Regions from separate parts of the Homo sapiens genome. Here regions 1 and 2 are each linked to region 3. The links come from fine-mapping of genetic effects on gene expression. A gene starts in region 3. Each other region holds a variant in brackets. All regions are shown on one strand. Distances are from middle to middle.

What was found. PIP is the estimated chance that this variant, and not a neighbour inherited with it, causes the effect.
Region 1: its variant is the best candidate, but not a certain one, in a credible set for the expression of CNPPD1 in whole blood (TOPMed, PIP 0.57).
Region 2: its variant is the best candidate, but not a certain one, in a credible set for the expression of CNPPD1 in B cells (CEDAR, PIP 0.50).

What each region holds. Positions count from the first base shown.
Region 1 is chr2:219,196,445-219,200,554 of GRCh38, forward strand. No RefSeq gene overlaps it. Among named protein-coding and RNA genes, the nearest start is that of ZFAND2B, 8.3 kb to the right of the region's middle. The variant C/T (reference allele first, on the strand shown) is at 1,802.
Region 2 is chr2:219,134,423-219,138,422 of GRCh38, forward strand. All of the region lies in intron 5 of NHEJ1 (non-homologous end joining factor 1), which reads right to left. Among named protein-coding and RNA genes, the nearest start is that of NHEJ1, 24 kb to the right of the region's middle. The variant CT/C (reference allele first, on the strand shown) is at 1,864.
Region 3 is chr2:219,174,407-219,178,677 of GRCh38, forward strand. It overlaps CNPPD1 (cyclin Pas1/PHO80 domain containing 1), which reads right to left and starts at 2,519. Exons shown (of 8, transcript NM_015680.6): 1 at 2,354-2,519; 2 at 1,817-1,925; 3 at 1,185-1,266; 4 at 582-702; 5 at 372-500. The coding sequence starts at 2,422. RETREG2 (reticulophagy regulator family member 2) reads left to right here and starts at 3,869. Exons shown (of 9, transcript NM_024293.6): 1 at 3,869-4,227. The coding sequence starts at 3,947. RefSeq lists silencers at 2,141-2,435, 2,274-2,333, 2,454-2,663, 2,734-2,783, 3,774-3,853 and 2 more and an enhancer at 3,564-4,064.

The DNA.
Region 1 (4,110 bases), 22 kb after region 3:
CAGCTGGGACTACAGGCATGTGTCACCATGCCCAGCTAATTTTTGTATTTTTAGTAGAGATGGGTTTCTCCGTGTTGGCCAGGCTGGTCTCAAACTCCTGACCTCAGGTAATCCACCCGCCTCGGCCTCCCAAAGTGCTGAGATTACAGGCGTGAGCCACCGCACCCAGCCTGTTTTGTTTTGTTTTGAGATGGAGTCTCCCTCTGTAGCCCAGGCTGGAGTGCAGTGGTGTGATCTTGACTCACTGCAACCTCTGCCCTCTGGGTTCAGGCAATCTCCTGCCTCAGTCTCCCAAGTAGCTGGGATTACAGGCGTGAGCCACCATGCCCAGCTATTTTTCTTTTTCTTTTTTCTTTTTTTTTTTTTTTCTGAGACGGAGTCTCCCTCCGTCGCCCTGGCTGGAGTGCAATGGCAGGATCTCGGCTCACTGCAACTTCCGCCTCCCTGGTTCAAGCAATCCTCGTGCCTCAGCCTCCCAAGTAGCTGGGATTACAGGCGTCCACTACCAAGGCTGACTCATTTTTTTTTTTTTTTTTTTTTGAGACAGAGTCTCACTCTGTCGCCCAGGCTGGAGTGCAGTGGCACAATCTCGGCTCACTGCAAGCTCTGCCTCCTGGGTTCATGCCATTCTCCCGCCTCAAGCCTCCCGAGTAGCTGGGACTACAGGCACCCGCCCCCACGCCCGGCTAATTTTTTGTATTTTTAGTAGAGACCGGGTTTCACCATGTTAGCCAGGATGGTCTCGATCTCCTGACCTCATGATCCGCCCACCTCAGCATCCCAAAGTGCTGGGATTACAGGAGTAAGCCACCGCGCCCAGCTTCTAACCTCTACTTTTTGAAAAATAATTTCCTCCCATCCAGTTTCTGTTTTGGGCACTCCTGTTCATAAAATCTTGAAACTCCTGGACTGATATTCTACTTTGCTTATTTTCCATTCCTTTACATTTTTTTGTTCTACTTCCTATATTTTCTCAACTTTATGTTGTACCCATTCTTTGGAATGTGCTATATTTCTGTGATTATATTTTTAAAAATGTCTAAGAGCTTTATTTTCTGAATATCCTTCCCCCTGTCCTCCCCACCCCCCATTTTATGAGATAGAATTTCACTATGTTGCTCAATCTGGACTCCAACTCCTGGGCTTGAGCAAACCTCTTGCTTCAGCCTCCTGTGTAGCTGGGATTACAGGTACACACCATTACACCTGGCTTGAATATCCCTTTTTATGTTTTTTTGCTCCTGTGTGTTAAATGAAAAATCTGCTCCCTGAGCTGGGCACAGTGGCTCACACCTGTAATCCCAGCACTTTGGAAGGCCAAGGCGGGTGGATCACCTGAGGTCGGGAGTTCGAGACCAGCCTGACCAACATGGAGAAACCCCGTCTCTACTGAAAATACAAAATCAGTCGGGCATGGTGGTGCATGCCTGTAATCCCAGCTACTAGGGAGGCTGAGGCAGGAGAATCGCTTGCACCTGGGAGGTGGAGGTTGTGGTGAGCCGAGATCGTGCCACTGCACTCCAGCCTGGGCAACAAGAGTAAAACTCCATCTCAAAAAAAAAAAAAATCTGCTTCCTGAGTACACTGTATTAATATTAATCATTTTCTTTTTTTTTTTTTTTTGAGACAGAGTCTTACTCTGTCGCCTAGGCTGGAGTGCAGTGGCACTATCTCAGCTCACTGTAACCTCTGCCTCCCGGGTTCAAGTGATTCTCCTGCCTCAGTCTCCCGAGTAGCTGGGATTACAGGCGCCTGCTACCAAGCCCAGCTAATTTTTGTATTTTTAGTAGAGACAGGGTTT[C/T]GCCATGTTGGCCAGTCTGGTCTCAAACTCCTGACCTCAAGTGATCCAACTGCCTTGGCCTCCCAAGGTGCTGGAATTACAGGCGTGAGCCACCACGCCTGGCCTAATCATTCTCTTTTTTTTTTTTTTTTTTTTTTTTTGAGACAGAGTCTCACTCTGTTGCCCAGGCTGGAGTGTAGTGGCGCCATCTTGGCTCACTGCAACCTCTGCCTCCTGGGTTCAAGCGATTCTCCTGCCTCAGCCTCCCAAGTAGCTGGGACTATGGGCACCCACCACCACACCAGCTAATTGTTGTATTTTTCGTAGAGACAGGGTTTTACCATGTTGGCCAGGCTGGTCTCGAACTCCTGACCTCAGGTGATCTGCCCACCTCAGTCTCCCAAAGTGTTGGGATTACAGGCGTGAGCCACTGCCCCCAGCCCTGAGCATTCTTAATAAGTTATATTATTATATTATTAGTAGTCTAGTTATATAAATTATATTTTTACATTCCCTGCATTGTACTTGTTTTCCTCCTCACCACCATTTATGTCTTTATTTTGGCTTCTGTCTTTCATGGAAGAGACTTCCCTCAAACCCTGGTTTGCTCCTTCATATCTGAGCAGAGGCACTTAAAGGCCAACTGAATGCTCTCTAAAATTCGAAGATTTGCATCTTCCCTGCAGGGTGAGGTGGCAGAGACAACCATTGTGTTGAGATCCCTCAATGCCCAGAGAATTTTTAGGCTGCTCGGTTCTTCCAGAGAAGAACCCTGCAGCCTCTGGCCTGGGGACCATGAACCTGGCTGCTAGTGCTCTAGAGTCAGGAGAAAATAGCTGCAGTTTCTCTCCCTCTTCACCCTCAGCTGGCTGACAACCTGAAGCCCAGGGACCCATTGCTTCATTCTCTCCAGAGAACCCAGATACCTCCTGCCTTTTCTGGGGGGGCAGTGGGAGAGGGGCAGTCACCCAGCTGCCCAGGCTGGAGGAGGGAACATGAGGGTCTAACTGCTCCTTATGTCGAGTTTAAACTCACCCTTCATTTCCAGCCCCCTCCTTCCACCCCTACCTTTGGAAAGCTTGATGCTCCCAGTCCCAAGCCTTTCAGCGGCAACGAAGTCAACACTGGCCTGCCGCTTGTTGTTCCCACCGTTTCAACTTCCTCGGACCCTAGTCAGTTTTCCTTCTTCCATCAGATGTTTAGCTCCCAAAATGTTTTTGTCATATCTTCATGTATTGTTTTCGCTTCTGTTCTCCTTATTGTTTTACTGTTATTTTGGTGGGGTTTGGGAAGGAAGCAAACATAAAATCACATGCATTCATTTTACCACATTTAGCAGAGTCTCTTTCACCTCTCACCTCTTGCACCCTCAGACTCCTCTGAGCTCTACTTGAAGGTCATCCATAACCTTTGTGCTGCTCTCCCCAGGCCCCGCCTCTGGCTAGAGTGCATTTGGCATCTTGTCTGCCTGAAGCACTCTCACTGTGCCTCCCCAGCCTCACTCTTGGCCATTACTGGCTCCCATTTCCGTGTCCTGCACCTTCCCATTAGAGCATCGGTTTCAAACGTGGAGTTATGAAATTAGTGGGCTGTGCAATCAATTCGGTGCAGCTTAAACAACATTGATTTTATATTTATATACATTGGGAGGAGATGTAAGATATATTTCTTACCGTAGGTCAAAGCTGAAAAACTTGGAAAGCCACTGTATTCGGTCCTTCTCACTTTGAACTAGTTGCTGCATCTAAGACCTGACAACTCCAGTTGGTATTTAGCAGATTGTGGCCAGGCGCGGTGGCTCATGCCTGTAATCCTAGCACTTTGTGAGGCTGAGGCGGGCAGATCACCCTAAGTCAGGAGTTTAAGACCAGCCTGGCCAACATGGTGAAACCCTCTCTACTAAGAATACAAAAATTAGCTGGGCGAGTGGCGGGTGCCTGAAATCCCAGCTACTTGGGAGGCTGATGCTGAAGAATCACTTGAACCCAGAAGGTGGAGGTTGCAGTGAGCCGAGATCATGCCACTGCACTCCAGCCGAGGCAACAACAAAACTCCAACTCAAAAAAAAAAAAATTTATATATATATATATATATATATATATATATATATATATACACACACACACATACTTTAGCAGATTGAATATATATGAAATCACTGTATAACCTGTAAAGTTACATGAATCTGAACTATTTGTCTAAACTAGGCATCTAAAATGAGCTTGTGTCCGCAATTGGTGGGTTCTTGGTCTCACTGACTTCAAGAATGAAGCCGCAGACCCTCGCGGTGAGTGTTACAGCTCTTAAGATGGCGCGTGTGGAGTCTGTCC
Region 2 (4,000 bases), 40 kb before region 3:
TATGGACTTTATATTTGTTAGTTACCCTTTCTTGGCTAATCTACTATGCTATTCTGATTATCTTCCTGTCTCACATTTCCATCACTGGCTATTACTCCTTCCAGTTATGACTATTCCCCATATCTCAATCTTTGGGCCTTTGTTCTTTTTTCCATACTCTTCCCAGCTAAAGATCCATCCATTCTCATGGCATCAAATATCATTTCTTTGTAGAAGATTCTCAAATCTATTTTCTGTAGACCCTTTTCTTCGACCTGAGCTTCAACCCTAGTTTTTCAACTCTTTCCTAGGCATTCTCACTTGTACGTCCCATAATCAATTTAAATTCAACATGTGGCCAGGCGCGGTGGCTCACGCTGGTAATCCCAGCACTTTGGGAGGCTGAGGTAGGTGGATCACGAGGTCAGGAGTTCGAGACCAGCCTGGCCAACATGGTGAAACCCCGTCTCTACTAAAAATACAAAAATTAGCCGGGTGTGGTGTGGTGGGCTCCTGTAATCCCAGCTACTCGGGATGCTGAGGCAGGAGAATTGCTTGAAACCAGAAGGCGGAGGTTGCAGTGAGCCGAGATCGTGCCATTGCACTCCAGCCGGGCAACAAAAGTGAAACTCCGTCTCAATTAAAAAAAAAAAAAAAATTCAACATGTATGTGAAAAAAATCTTCATCTTATGTTTTTAAATTAACTCTAATTATAAATAAGCCACTGATTTTGTAAAAAATAGGCTAAGGCATTGTTAAATTACCATACTGTAACAAATGGATTTTTATGAAACCCTTCTTCTACTAGGGGAAAGAGGAGGGAGACTCAACTGTGTAAATCTTCACAAAAAGCTCTGGAGGTACATGAAGCTTATAGGTTAGGCCCAAAAGGGCTAGGTATTTGTCAGAAGTAAGACATCAAGGCCGGGCACAGTGGCTCACGCCTGTAATCCCAGCACTTTGGGAGGCCGAGGTGGGTGGATCACTCAAGGTCAGGAGTTTGAGACCAGCCTGGCCAACACGGTGAAACCTTGTCTCTACTAAAAATACAAAAAAATTAGCCAGGCGTGGTGGCAGGTGCCTGTAATCTTAGTAATTCAGGAGGCTGAGGCAGGAGAATTGCTTGAACCCAGGAGGCAGAGGTTGCAGTGAGCCGAGATCACCCCACTGCACTCCAGCCTACAGGACAGAGTGAGATTCCGTCTCAAAAGTAAAGAAGTAAGACATCAAACATCATCACTGCCTCACAAATCAAATCTGAACCAAATGGATTTCTTAGACTGGAGATTTAAAGCAAGTAAGTGTGGCTCATGCCTGTAATCCCAGCACTTTGGGAGGCTGTGGCAGGCAAATTGCTTGAGCCCAGGAGTTCAAGACCAGCCCTCGGCTACATAGTGAGATCCTGTCTCTTTTAGAAAACAAATAAATAAATAAATAAACCAAATGAGAGACTAATGGTGGATTTGATGGAGCAAAACAGAGGAAAAAATAGTTTTCACTTTGGCAGAGTTGGTAACTTCCTTTGAGTAAAGTAAGATATACAACCCCCTGGAGCGCAGTCTGTTAAACTGTGCTAGCCTATCCAGGTCTAGATACAGGGACATGCATGATTTCGTTTTCCACAGGCCCCTACAACTCTCTGTTGTCTTCTATCCAGCCTGATATACATGTTTATGTAATATGACTGGCCCCTGCAGATATCTGATTTTGTAATATCTGGTTTTGAGATTTTTTAGGATAAGAGAATTTGAGATATGGGAAACTCCTTTGCTATTGGGATTCTTAGAATCAGAAACCCAAAATGGATAATTTTTACCCCCTTTGTATTCTTTCTTTCTTTTTCTGAGACAGTGTCTTTCTCATAATGTATTCCCACTTGGTTT[CT/C]TTTTTTTTTTTTTTTTTTAGAGACAAGGTCTCGCTTTGTCGCTCAGGCTGGAGTGCAGTGATGCAATCTTGGCTGACTGCAACCTCAGCCTCCAGAGTTCAAGTGATTCTCCTGCCTCAGTCTCCCAAGTAGCTGGGATCACAAGCCTGTGCCACCAAGCCCGGCTAATTTTTGTATTTTTAGTAGAGATGGAGTTTCGCCATGTTAGCCAGGCTGGTCTCGAACTCCTGACCTCTGGTGATCCACCCACCTCAGCCTCCCAAACTGTTGGGATTATAGGCGTGAGCCACCACACGTAGCCCCTACTTGGTTTCTTTATTTGTTTGTTTCTTTGAGATGGAGTCTTGCTCTGTTGCCCAGGCTGGAGTGCAGTGGCACAATCTCGGCTCACTGCAACCTCTGCCTCCGAGATTCAAGCGATTCTCCTGCTTCAGCCTCCTGAGTAGCTGGGATTACAGGCACCCACCATTGCACCCAGCTAGTTTTCTTATCTTTAGTAGAGATGGGGTTTCGCCATGTTGGCCAGGCTGATCTCAAACTCCCGACCTCAACTGATCTGCCCGCCTCAGCCTCCCAAAGTGCTGGGATTACAGACCTGAGCCACCGCACCTGGCCCCATTTGTATTTTCTATATTGATTTCCTTTTTTTTCTCTCTCAAAATTTTAACAATTTTTTTAAAAAATTACTTTAAAATTTTTAATAAATTTCCTTTTGAAAACATAAGCCCTTATAAGCCTTTGCAAAAGGAAAATAAAGAAAGAGGTCTTTTTAGCTCTTCTTGAGAAAAAAAAAAAAAAAAAGAAGTGGTAACCCCTGGTTACTACAGGATTCACAGTGAGAAAACCCCAAAGAGAAGGTGAAATTCAGAAAAAACAAAATATAGTTGAGAAACATGCACAGCCATACCTTCCTCCCTGGAGATTTTCATTCCAGAGCTCAAATACTGGTACATTCATATTTTCAGTAAGGAAAACAATTCTTTTATATGCCCACGGTTAAACCGACCCCACCCATGATCTTCCTAGTCTATCAATGGCATCACTATTCTTCAAATCACATAAGCATATGACCAAGAGCCTAATATTCCTAAAGATCACCTTCATATGTCAATTCTCCAGTCAAAACTTTCAATGGCTTCCCACTATCTGCAACAGTAATTAATAAGTGCAAGGAGAATGTGCCCCATCTCCCTCCTAGGAGATGTGTCCCCACTTGAGAATCACAGCACATAATGACAGTCGTTAACAATTGAACTAAATGGAGAAATAAATGTGTTACAGGCAAAAAAAAAAAAAAAAAAAAAACAAAAAAAACTGAAAACCACCTTCAGAATAAAACACTAATCTGCCAGCCCAACATTTAAGGCCCCCACAATTTAGCCTCAAGTTATTATCTTGCTAACTTTATTTTCTACTAATCCTCATCCATTCTTATTCTTATTTTCCATCCTTTGCCCAAGTGCTTCCCACCTAAAATGTCTTCCACATAGTTTTCAATCAAAGCCTAAATCAAAGCCCAGTTCACGTCCTGCCATTTATAGAAAGCTTTTTCTAATCACTCCACTACTATGGCCCTTATTATCATTCACTAAGCACTATAAGCTCTTTGATGGCAATATTATCATACCTTATATGCTCACAGAACCTCATTCAGCCCGCATGCACCTGACCGAATACCGAAAGGATGAATTAACTGCAAGTTTTTCTAGGTCGGAGAACTGACACACATAATAGGAGGGAGCATATTCTCATGCATCTAGACTTATCCTTTTTTACGATGCCCACATGGACACTAAAAAAAAACCACCCTGAATCCTATGGCTTTCTCTACATATTGAACAACAGGTACATGGTAAAAGGGTAGCCCTTCTAACTGTGGAAGTGGAGCCCTTGTGACTCTAAGACTAATTTTCTTTCCAGGATTTTGTTAGGTACTTATTCTTTTGACTTTTGAGGTGTTAGTCTCTTAACTGGCTCTAAAAAAAGAGAGGTTCTGGGATTTCTCAATAATAAAAGATTCAAGGTTTATATACACTTCATCCCGAAGTTGGGACTGCCTTTCAGAAAACATAAATGTCAAACAAATAAGGCAGGTGGTAGAATGGGAATATAGGCTACTCATCTATTTACATGTA
Region 3 (4,271 bases):
CTAAGCAAGAGGGGAGAAAATGACCCTGAGAATGGTCTGTGTCCACAGGGAGCTAAACATCTAGGGGCAGAGAAAGTATGGACACAAATATTCAGAACCCAATAGGATAAACTCTGACTCAGAGTGTACCCTGTGGGGCCCTGGAGGAATAGAGGAGGCGAGGAAATGTTCTGCTCTTGGCCTTACTGCTCTACGAATCTCCAAAAACTGGTTAGTACTGAAGAGATAGGAAAGGAAGACACTAACACAAAGGCAGGAGGAGGACAGGAAGAGAAATGACGAACCAACAGAAGACTGAGAGAGAACAAAGGACTAAAGGACGGTTAAAGATGGGCCAGGGAAACTGAGCAAGAGAGAGAACAGCTGCTCACCATGGCACTCAGGAAGCCCCTCTCCAAGGCATTGAGAGTGGGCACGGCCACACCCCCAGCAGCTCCCCATTCGTCGTTGAAGACCTCCTCCTCCTCCCCTTCATCATAGAGGTACTTACTGGCCACCATCTGCAGAGGAACCAGAAGTGGTGGAGCAGAGCTCATAGCAGGCTCTTGGCTCTTTAGGGAGATGGGGAGGGGGTGTCTTACCATGGAGATCAGGAACAAGTCAGAGGATGACACATGCTGCAAGTAGTCTGGGTTTCGGTGCCGGAGCCGTTCAATGTACACCAGAGCCAGCATCATAGCACATGGGGAGATGCATGCCTCCCTGGGTGGTAGAAAGGATCACTAATTAAACCCAAGGGTCCTTCAGCTCTTGCAAGTCTTATGATGCTCGTTCCTGTCTTTACCTCTTATCTTTGGAAAAAAACTATTCCTGGCTGGGCACGGTGGCTCATGTCTGTAATCCCAGCACTTTGGAAGACCAAGGTGGGTGGACTGACACCAGGAGTTTGACACCAGCCTGGCCAACATGGTGAAACCCCGTCTTTACTAAAAATACAAAAATTAGCCAGGGGCGGTGGTGTGTGCCTGTAGTCCCAGCTACTGGGGAGGCTGAGGCACAAGAATCACTGGAACCCAGGAGGCGGAGGTTGCGGTGAGCCGAGATTGTGCCACTGCACTCCAGCCTGGGTGACAAAGTGAGACTGTCTCAAAAAAAAAAAAAAGAAAGAAAGAAAAGAAAGAAAAGACGATTCCCCTTTCTCTAGGGCCCAAACACTCTCATCCTATCCTCATTTCCAGGCTCACCGGGACACATGAGCTACATATTTCTTCTGGAGTCGGCGAATAGGGCTGGGGGCTGCCTTCTGGAGCAGTTCGACAGCAATGTCTGCAAGGGACAGAAGGAAGGCCGAGTGAGCAAACAAGCACCCACACCCAACACACCAGTCCCCACTGCTAGCAGAAGACCCAGATCTGTATTTTCTGAGGCCTTGGGGACAGGACCATAGTAACAAAATAGAGATCAAATTCTCACACACTGAGACAAAAAGCCCATTCCAAGTTCGAATTTCAGCTCATTCTAACAGGAAAGCTTATTGCCCTGTCACATCAAACTATCCAGATTTATCTGTCACTGCTGTTCATCTGTGGCATAAACATGCCTTGTTTACTTGGGGAACATATGATGGATATCCTTCGAAAATTAGCTTTTCAATATATAAATCAAGAGTGATTTGTATAGATATATGTGGCAGCAATGTTTTTTATTCATTTGGGCTAAAAGAATGGGAAATGCAAACTGCCCTCTTGAACCAAGTACCAACGAGCTAGCAATGAAGAGACAGTGTAGCCACGGGGCAAACCTCGAGCCATTTTCTGCCTGATGACAATCCCATTTTCATGCTTCTCACTTGTCCAGTCACACAACACTGCCTAACCTGCCACCGGGCTGGAGAGCTCCTCCAGGCTACAGTCGGCTTCCCAGTCCCAGCCATAGTAGAGCCTCCTTCGGATCCGGGCACTCAGCTTCTGGTGTCCTGGGAGGAACTGAAACAGGGCAGGGGCAGCGGAGGGTGAAGGGCACGGAAAGGTATGATGCAGATCCTGGCTCTGGGCTGGAAGGCGGGGCAGGGGACAGGCCGGCCTCGCTGCTAGGGGGCCCGTGCCTTACCCAGACCCGCGTTCTGTAAATCGCTTGCCAATGGCAGCCTGGTCCATAGAGGGAGGAATGCCCCCACCCCCATCGAGGGTTCCCCGGGAGAAGTTCTCCGAGAAGGGCCCTCGTGTGGCCACCCCTACGCCCATTCCTATACTCCGCGGCTCTCCCTCCCGGCCCAAGCAGCCGCGGCCTCAAGGAAGCACTGCTCGAGCAGCTGCCGCCCAGTCCCGGCACAGCAGTCAGGCGAGCTCGCAGCGCCGCTCAGGCCGGGAGGGGCGCGCCGGGAGGCCGGGGAGGGGGCGGGACCCCCACTCACCGTGAAGTCCTGGAAGCCGGCGAGGGAGAAGGTGCCTTCTTCGTCCAGCAGGAGCCCGGTCAGGTCCATCGCGCCGCCAGTCGCCGCCCTGCGAAGGTGAACGGAAGGAAACGAGTTGTAGGGGGCTCGCGGAGCTGTCCTTGCCCGCCTGTCCACCTGCCAGCCTGCCTCCCCGGGGCGGGCCGCCGTCCTCGCCCTCGCCCTCGCAGCTCCCTCCCCCCGGCGGCGGAAGGCGGGGCCCGGGCTGAACTGGGCGCCTCTTCCTGTTCCGCCCCGGGCTTGGCGCGGCGCGCGGGGGCCCTAGGCCCGGGAAGGGAGGTGTCAAGCGTCCGTGCGACGCTCACCTCGCGGAGCAGAAAGGAGATGCGGCTGCGAGGCGCGTACTCCGCCTGTGCCGCGTCCGCCCGGCGTTTACAAGCCGCGGGGGTGCCGCCTGCAAGTCAGCGCCTGGCACTTCCTGCCGCCCATCTGGCCCAGCCTCCCGCCCCGACCCGCGGGCAGGAACCGGACTCGAACTCCTGGTCTCACGGAACGTGGCCAAGCCCCAGGCGCCTCTGAGAAATGGGGACAATTCGTAGGGGGGACCACGCCGCACTGAGGATGAACAAGCCAGGCGTAGCAATGGAGAAGTTAATGTGAATAAGACGAAACGCACAACAGGAAGTTGTTCCCAGTTGCTTTTTAGGAGAGATATTATACATACTCAGCAATGCATATGAAAAGCGTCTGAAAGGACACACAGGAAATTTAGCAGTGGGTGAACTATGAAAAGGAAGAGAAACTCAGGGTGTTTTTTTTTTTTACTGTAATTTGAACTTTTAAACCTAAGGCTACTGAGGAAATTCTGTGATCTTAAGCGAATGTAAGGCCTCAAAACGTGTCAACACGTCCACCCAAAAGTAAACTGCATCTACCCAAGGTTTTGTGTTGAAACCCACCTCCCGCCTCCGATCTCATGCTTGAGTAGGCCGAGGTGGGAAGAAGCTCCGATATGTGGAAGTGGGAAAGTTTAAGGAGATAGGAAAGAAACAACTTTTCTGAGTAGATGTTGTTTTCGAGTCTGTCGAGTCAAGCGCTGGTGTGTGTTTGTTTACCCACTGAGGGGAGGGAACTGGGAGGACCAGTGCGTTGAGGGTTGGTTGAGTAATGGGACGGCCACCGCCCTTCCCGAGCGAGCAGAAGCAGACCCTACCGGGGATACTGGGAATCTGGAAGCCCACTTCCTGCCCCACACGGGGATACCGGGGCAGCACCACACTCCCTAGCCGCCCTGCCTACTGTGGGATAAGAAAACGGGCTCGACTGCCTGGACCTAGACCCGGACTCGGAACCCGGGGTACTTCGTCAACCAGAAAACGAACCTGTGTAGGCGCAGTGTCAGCGGCAGCCGCCGGGGCGCATGCGCGGCCCGCCCTATCCGGGGGGGGGGGGGTTAGGCCGCGTCACGTGACGGGCTCAGCGCTCCGCAGTCACGTGACGCTCGTCCGCAACCTCTGCTGTCCTCCGCGGCGCCCCCTTCCGCCTGACGCGCCCCCGGCGGCGGCCGCGCAGCCCTGGCTCCTCGCGGGCTCGGGCGGCGGCTGCGGCGGGGCTATGGCGAGCGGCGGTGGCGGGGGTAACACTGGCGCGGGTGGGGGGCCGGGGATGGGCCTGAGCCTGGGCCTGGGTCTGGGTCTGAGCCTAGGCATGAGTGAGGCCACCAGTGAGGCAGAGGAGGAGGCGGCCACGGCCGAGGCGGTGGGACGCCTGGCCACGACGCTGTGGCTGCGGCTCCGCGGCTGGGAGGCGGTGCTGGCGGCGGCGCAGCGGTTGCTGGTGTGGGAGAAGCCGCTGCACAGCCTGGTCACGGCGGCCGCGCTCAACGGCCTCTTCTGGTAACGGCCGCGGAGGAGGGGGCGGGGCCGGGATGAGCGGGGGA